Linked DNA regions of Homo sapiens. The protein of the gene in region 1 purifies or fractionates together with the protein of each later gene. This does not show direct contact. Each region holds a gene or a part of one and is shown on either strand. Other genes may lie near its edges.

Region 1 (4,036 bases):
TTTTCCCAGGGCACTTACATGCCAGCTAAACTTGGGAATCCTTCTCTCTGAAGCTTGTTGATCTTGTACCTGAAACTCTTGCTTATTATTAGTTTTTATTGCTTTCCCTGGTAGAAGTGGTGACTGTGATTTGATTGTTAACATTCTGCATTGGAATTCAATTTAACCCTTTCCATGGATTCAGTTTTTATGGCCACATCTGTTTTCATGGGTCATTTTACAAGATTAGTTAGTCCTGGTGCTTTTAACATCCTATTTTTGGATCATTATATTCATTCCTCTGTAGTTAAAACTGCATATAGTCAAATGAAAAATACAGAGTATGACTGCTGTGGGCCGATCAATCTAGTCTTGCAGACTACATATATCACATTAACCATTTAATCATCATATCTGCACTTGAGTTTTTACCAGGTACATACAGTTAACTCATTGAAACTTCTACTGTAATTTAGATGGAATATGCTATTGACTCTTGCTTCTTTTTCTGAGGTCTAAATGGCCTCACTTTATAACGTATGTTGCCAAACTGCAGGATATTTGGCAATTGAGAAGACAATAATACCTAAAGGCAACTCTCTCCAAATATGATTTTCAGAGAGGCATGTGGGTGGTGGTGGGAAGAGGTCTGACAGGACTGAGAACACTTTTTTTTCCTCTCTTTGACTCATTTTTTAGGTCCCGTAAGTTCCACAATTTCATGGAAAAGTGTACGATAAAAAATTTCCTGTTTCGTCCTACTTCTGCAAACATGCTTCAACACCCATTTGTTCGGGATATAAAAAATGAACGACATGTTGTTGAGTCATTAACAAGGCATCTTACTGGAATCATTAAAAAAAGACAGAAAAAAGGTAGAATCTGTTAAGTTTTATTTTACTGAAATGAATATTCAGAGTTTATTCATGTATTGTTTCCAGGAAAAAGTAATATTTGTTTAAGACTTAGATTGAAAATAAAACTTCTGAGGCCTTTGATATTTAGTTTTGCCAATAATATGCCATGTGCTCTTATTTAATTTTCTCTTGCGTGTGTGTGTGTGTGTGTGTGTGTGTGTGTGTGTGTGTGTGTGTATAGTTACTAATTCTTGCCAGTTACACCTGGCAAATGTTCATATTTATGAAGACCTTGAAAGCATCCAATAAAGTTTTGTGATATGCCAATTTTAAGTAACTAACTAAATAAAATAAATAAAAGATAAAAGGTAACAAAATGTATATCTTGCTTTTTTTTCAGCTGGTATTTTGACTCTACAAGAGATAAATGGATTTGTAATTAACCATTTATTCACTGCTAATTTTGAAGTAGTATTTGTGCACCATACAAAGCTTGTTTTATGTACTAAACTCCAAATATAAAATATAATTAAAGGAACTGATTTATACAAATAAACATAAACTTCTGTCTATTAATAAAAGTGAACTTCTATTAAAAATGGCAGGATTTGCAGTGAGCCAAGATCATGCCACTGCACTCCAGCCCGGGTGACAGAACAAGACGCTGCCTCAAAAAAATAAAAATAAAAGTACCAGGATGGATTTTCACCAAGTCCAGAAGAAGCCCCTGGGAAGTCCTAACTTTATATATTATATTACATATTCCACATTTGATTTTGCGGACCATAGGCAGAGTTGAGAGTAACAATGGAATGTAAAAGGGAAAACTTGAAAAAGCAGGCATCCTCAGATCAGCTGTGGGATTGATTGTAGTGGGGCTTGTTGTATCTATACATGTATCATGTTTTGAGGCAAGGAGCAGCAAGAATTAATTTATTTACCTATGGTAATGAAGTTATTCAGCCAACTTTACAGAGGCCAGCCAGTTTCAAATGGGTTCAGGAAAACCACACATCTATATGGTAATTTGCTAATTTCCAGAATTGCAAAATTTCCAAAATGTTACCTGTAGGAAAAGTTCCATTTATATGGAAGTTACACTAAAGATATAAATATAGTTGCCCTGAACATTTTAATATAGGAAATTCAAAATAAAACTCTTGTTTGTAATCTTCTATATTTCAGTAGTCACAGTACAGCTGATGATAGGAAAGAAGCTGAATGTTTTCAATGTGTTTAGTGTAAAACACAGAATTAAGAATTTGCCTTCTCATTGAAAAGACCAAATATCAACCTCAAGCCATAAAGTCCTTACATCTAGAGCCCACAGCTGTAAGCCATGCTCACCACTATTTAGAGTTTCTCTTGTCTCATTCTCCCTTTGTCCCATTCTCTCTTCTTCCTCTTTAGAATTGCAGAAATCAAGTTGCTAAATTTTCTCTGTTCAGAGAAATTAATCTGCATGCAATAGCTATATTGTGCTGCAAAAGTGGGCCTAGAAACTAGAATATGGTCTACATCACAAACCAAGTACTTTTGAAGGGCTACCTTCTTGCCCTTGTAATTCACTCCACATCCTAAGAAGCAGAGGGAACAAGGTGATTAAGTGGATAACATGCTTATCTGCTGACTGTTTATGCATTATGTTTTTCTCTTTTGTAAAAAAAGGAATACCTTTGATCTTTGAAAGAGAAGAAGCTATTAAGGAACAGTACACCGTGAGAAGATTCAGGTGCGTTCCACAAATTGCATATATAATTTGATGATAGCAATTCACATAAGGCCGTTGATTCCATACTGTTGCCTTTGGTTCAGAAAGACTTAATTCTTTCTGATACAACAAATAACAAATCTCTGTTTTTAAGAGATATTGAGTGAAAATGTGAGAATTCTTTATTACTACCCAAAGACTCCTTAATATCTGGCAAGTGAAGATCAAGTAGATATCATATTTCATTAATAATTGAATACATTAGTAATACAAATGTTACCTGCAGAATATTTCAGACATCAAGGGAATGATTTCAGAAAGGTTTACTGAAGGTATCTTCATTGCAGAAAATGTCCATCTTTTAAAGTAAAAACAATGCCCCTGAATGGCTCCATTCCACTAAAAATTCTAATTGTATGCCAATCATTTGTGTGTTTATTTTAGAGGACCCTCTTGCACTCACGAGCTTCTGAGATTGCCAACCAGCAGCAGATGCAGACCACTTAGAGTCCTGCATGGGGAACCCTCTCAGCCAAGGTGGCTACCTGATCGAGAAGAGCCACAGGTCCAGGCACTTCAGCAGCTACAGGGAGCAGCCAGGGTATTCATGCCACTGCAGGCTCTGGACAGTGCACCTAAGCCTCTAAAGGGGCAGGCTCAGGCACCTCAACGACTACAAGGGGCAGCTCGGGTGTTCATGCCACTACAGGCTCAGGTGAAGGCTAAGGCCTCTAAACCTCTACAAATGCAGATTAAGGCACCTCCACGACTACGGAGGGCAGCCAGGGTGCTCATGCCACTACAGGCACAGGTTAGGGCACCTAGGCTTCTGCAGGTACAGTCCCAGGTATCCAAAAAGCAGCAGGCCCAGACCCAGACATCAGAACCACAAGATTTGGACCAGGTACCAGAGGAATTTCAGGGTCAAGATCAGGTACCCGAACAACAAAGGCAGGGCCAGGCCCCTGAACAACAGCAGAGGCACAACCAGGTGCCTGAACAAGAGCTGGAGCAGAACCAGGCACCTGAACAGCCAGAGGTACAGGAACAGGCTGCCGAGCCTGCACAGGCAGAGACTGAGGCAGAGGAACCTGAGTCATTACGAGTAAATGCCCAGGTATTTCTGCCCCTGCTATCACAAGATCACCATGTGCTGTTGCCACTACATTTGGATACTCAGGTGCTCATTCCAGTAGAGGGGCAAACTGAAGGATCACCTCAGGCACAGGCTTGGACACTAGAACCCCCACAGGCAATTGGCTCAGTTCAAGCACTGATAGAGGGACTATCAAGAGACTTGCTTCGGGCACCAAACTCAAATAACTCAAAGCCACTTGGTCCGTTGCAAACCCTGATGGAAAATCTGTCATCAAATAGGTTTTACTCACAACCAGAACAGGCACGGGAGAAAAAATCAAAAGTTTCTACTCTGAGGCAAGCACTGGCAAAAAGACTATCACCAAAGAGGTTCAGGGCAAAGTCATCATGG
Region 2 (3,500 bases), on another chromosome or scaffold:
TTTCTTTCTTTCTTTTTTTTTTTTTTTTTTTACTTTGTCTGTGGTAAACAAGATAGGTATTTTATTTTTGCTGTCAGTTCAGTTTTTAGATTCTGAGGTATTTAAAATTTTAGTCACAAGCATATATCAGAACCTTGAAAGCATAAGATCTTTTTTGGAGTAATGTTCAAATTACAAAGGTACAATGAAAATAATTAGGGTTATTTCTGACCATTAACCTATAACATTTCTTACTTGGAATGGATGTAATGCTCAGCCCTCTGTCAAAATGACAATCATGTACATTAAGAGAAAGGAGGGGCTATTCTCCAGGCATTTGGGTTTTTGTAAATATTTGATCTTTAGGCTACCCTGGATTTTATTTGTTTGTTTTTTTGGAGACAGGGTCTCGCTCTGTTGCCCAGGCTGGAGTGCAGTGCCATGATCTTGCCTCACAGCAACCCCCACCTCCTGGGCTCCTGTGATCCTCCTGCCTCAGCCTCCTGAGTAGCTGAGACTATAGGTGCCCGCCACCAGGCCTGGCTAATTTTTGTATTTTTAGTAGAGACAGGGTTTCACCATGTTGGCCGGGCTGGTCTTGAACTCCAGACCTCAAGTGATCCGCCCACCTCAGCCTCCCAAAGTGCTGGAATTACAGGCGTGAGCCACCATACCTGGCCTAGGCTACCCTAGATATTAATGAAATAGTTTCATACTTGCTTTGTAATCTTGCCCCATTGGCATAGCATTTTATCTTTATTAAACAAATGAAAATTTAAATAGCCAGGCATGGTGGTTCACACCTGTAGTCCCAGCTACTTGGGAGGCTGAAGCAGGAGGATCACTTGAGCCTGGGAGGCTGAGGCTGCAGTGAGCTAAGGTCATGCCACTGCACTCCAGCCTGGGTGACAGAGTGAGACCCTGTCTGGGAAAAAAAAAAAAAGTATTTAAAAGCAATAAAATTTTCAAAGCAGTACTGTAGTATGTATTTGACATTCAACAGCATAATATATGGTTCACAGTAATGAAAATTAACTGCTTCGAAAAATTGAGAAGCATGTCAATGTAGCAGAAAGAACCAGGCTTTGGATTCCAAAAAGTGGCTGTGAATTTTGACTCTGCTACTTCTAAGCTAGACATTCAGCAAGTTTTTTAGCTTCTCCAAGTTTCAATTTCTTCATCTGTAAAATGGGCATAATAACGCATAATGCTTTGAGGATTAGAAATAATGTATAAATCTCCTTGGTCCTGAAAAAGTATTCCATAAACAATAACCATTACAATTTATCTTTACTTATTAGAGTAGCTCAAGAGAGACGACTGTTAGTTTTTGGAGATAGTACTTTTTTTTTTTTCATTATCTTCAAGGTTATGCCAGACTTTTCCAGATGTCTAATTCTTTAGACATTTAGATATTTGGAAATCACATTTCTTAGTCTTTCAGTACAGAGAGGTTGAGATTAATGCTTTTGCATTGATGCTTGAGGAGAAAACCAAAGTTGTTCCTATTTATCTTTTTTTTTTTCATATCAAGGCATACCTCAAGGAGGAAACTTTGACCTCAGCATAGCTGAAATAGCTGAAATTTGTATCTTGGGTTAGGCCTTTAGAGGATTTACTTATACAGCGTCTAAGAAGATAACATATACTTTATTAGGGTGAAAAATTAGAGGTCATTTAGGTACCCTTACTTAATACAGAACCTGGTTGAATAATCTGGGTATGGCATTAATCACGGAAAAGAAAGCTCAGTTCTCTATACCCACTGTAATGTGTCCTCCAAAACAGCAGGGATTGTGTGTCTTGGTTGCTTTGAAATCGGAGAGTTTGAGGATGCGTTGAGTGGGTAAATTGGGAGAAGATATATGTAGTGAGAATGCATGGTTGGAATTCAGAACTCAGAGAACCTTAGACTTGGGGAGTAATGGGGGTTGTAGGGAGGGGAGGACAAGGAAATCCAGTTCATCCCGTATCTTTAAGGGGCCTTTTAACTCTGTGTGGTGATGGCAAGTATTTGCTACTGGTTGTGAACACAGATATTAAAGTACCGGTGCTGAATACAGATAAATATTGGAAAAGAACATTTCCCAGTATCTAGAACCAGTAGAATCAATCAGTATCTATAGTAAAGCAGAAAACTAAAGTGTAAAATAATAATATATCTTAGTAAAAGGGTATGTAGTTGGTATCTGTTTGTCACAAAAATAAGATATATTTATATAGTGGTGTGATCTCGGCTCACTGCCACCTCCGCCTCCCAGGTGCAAGCGATTTTCATGCCTCAGCCTCTTAAGTAGCTGGGTTTACAGGCACATGCCACCGTGCCTGGCTAATTTTTTGTATTTTTAGTAGAGATGGGGTTTCACCATGTTGGCCAGGCTGGTCTCAAACTCCTGGCCTCAAGTAATCCACCTACCTGAGCCTCCCAAAGTGTTGGGATTACAGGCGTGAGATTACAGCCACCGCATCTGGCTAGGCCTAGATATATTATAAAATATTTGTTGAATTGACTGTTGTTTCATTTGCCTACACAGCAATCTTTTTACATGTATGCTTGGTCTTTAGAGTGCATTGGTTGTATGTAGCTTGGATTCCAGCCTATCATTTTAAAAAATTGTGGAGGACATTGATGGCAATCAATGTATTTAAGTCAGACTTAATAGAAGCACTGTGTTACTGTGTTCCCAACAGTTATTTCTAAGTTTGAAATTTGGAGTGTGTAGTCCAATAGAAATAGTGACGTAATGTTGAATAGTTCCCTATGTTAGCCTGCAAAAGCCACATAAACTTACTATATTAAGTTCTGGGTCTTGGTTGTTAGGGAACTATATTTGAAGGAGCTGGGGAGAGGGGGGAAAAGTATTTTTTTTCCTATTCCTTGGAGTAAGTTCCTTTAGATCATTGTATCTCACCAAGGACTGTTTTTGGTTGTCACAGTGACTGAGGGGCATGACTAGCGTTTGGTGAATGGGGGGCCGTGTCCTGCAGTACATGGAATAATCTCACATAAAGAAGCATTGTCCCTTGTCCTTTTTGACTTTTGAATGTCGTTAGATGTTTATGTAGCTGAATCCACTGTATAGATTAAATGAGCTTAGACTCTATTTTACATAAAAGCACAAAATATCGCACAGCTTTATTTTATTTATTTATTTATTTATTTATTTATTTATTTTTTGAGACGGAGTCTCGCTCTGTCTCCCAGGCTGGAGTGCAGTGGCGCCATCTCCGCTCACTGCAAGCTCTGGCTCACTGCAAGCTCCGCCTCCCGGTTCACGCCATTCTCCTGCCTCAGTCTCCGGAGTAGCTGGGACTACAGGCGCCCGCCGCCACACCTGGCTAGTTTTTTGTATTTTTAGTAGAGACGGAGTTTCATCGTGTTAGCCAGGATGGTCTCGATCTCCTGACCTCATGATCCACCCACCTCGGCCTCCCCAAGTGCTGGGATTACAGGCGTGAGCCACCATGCCTGGCCTGCACAGCTTTAAACTATAGTGAATATTTTAGGAAACTGCCATGAG

Evidence for each region.
Region 2: the proteins of NRK (region 1) and BLTP3A purify together in Homo sapiens (affinity purification with mass spectrometry, with the first as the bait; one large-scale study listed by BioGRID). This does not show direct contact.

The regions. Positions count from the first base shown.
Region 1 is NC_000023.11:105,905,736-105,909,771, forward strand, and holds part of NRK (nik-related protein kinase), read left to right. Parts: intron 1-678; coding exon 679-854; intron 855-2,504; coding exon 2,505-2,568; intron 2,569-2,991; coding exon 2,992-4,036. UniProt on the Homo sapiens protein: May phosphorylate cofilin-1 and induce actin polymerization through this process, during the late stages of embryogenesis. Involved in the TNF-alpha-induced signaling pathway.
Region 2 is NC_000006.12:34,798,583-34,802,082, forward strand, and holds part of BLTP3A (bridge-like lipid transfer protein family member 3A), read left to right. Parts: intron 1-3,500. UniProt on the Homo sapiens protein: Tube-forming lipid transport protein which probably mediates the transfer of lipids between membranes at organelle contact sites. May be involved in the retrograde traffic of vesicle clusters in the endocytic pathway to the Golgi complex.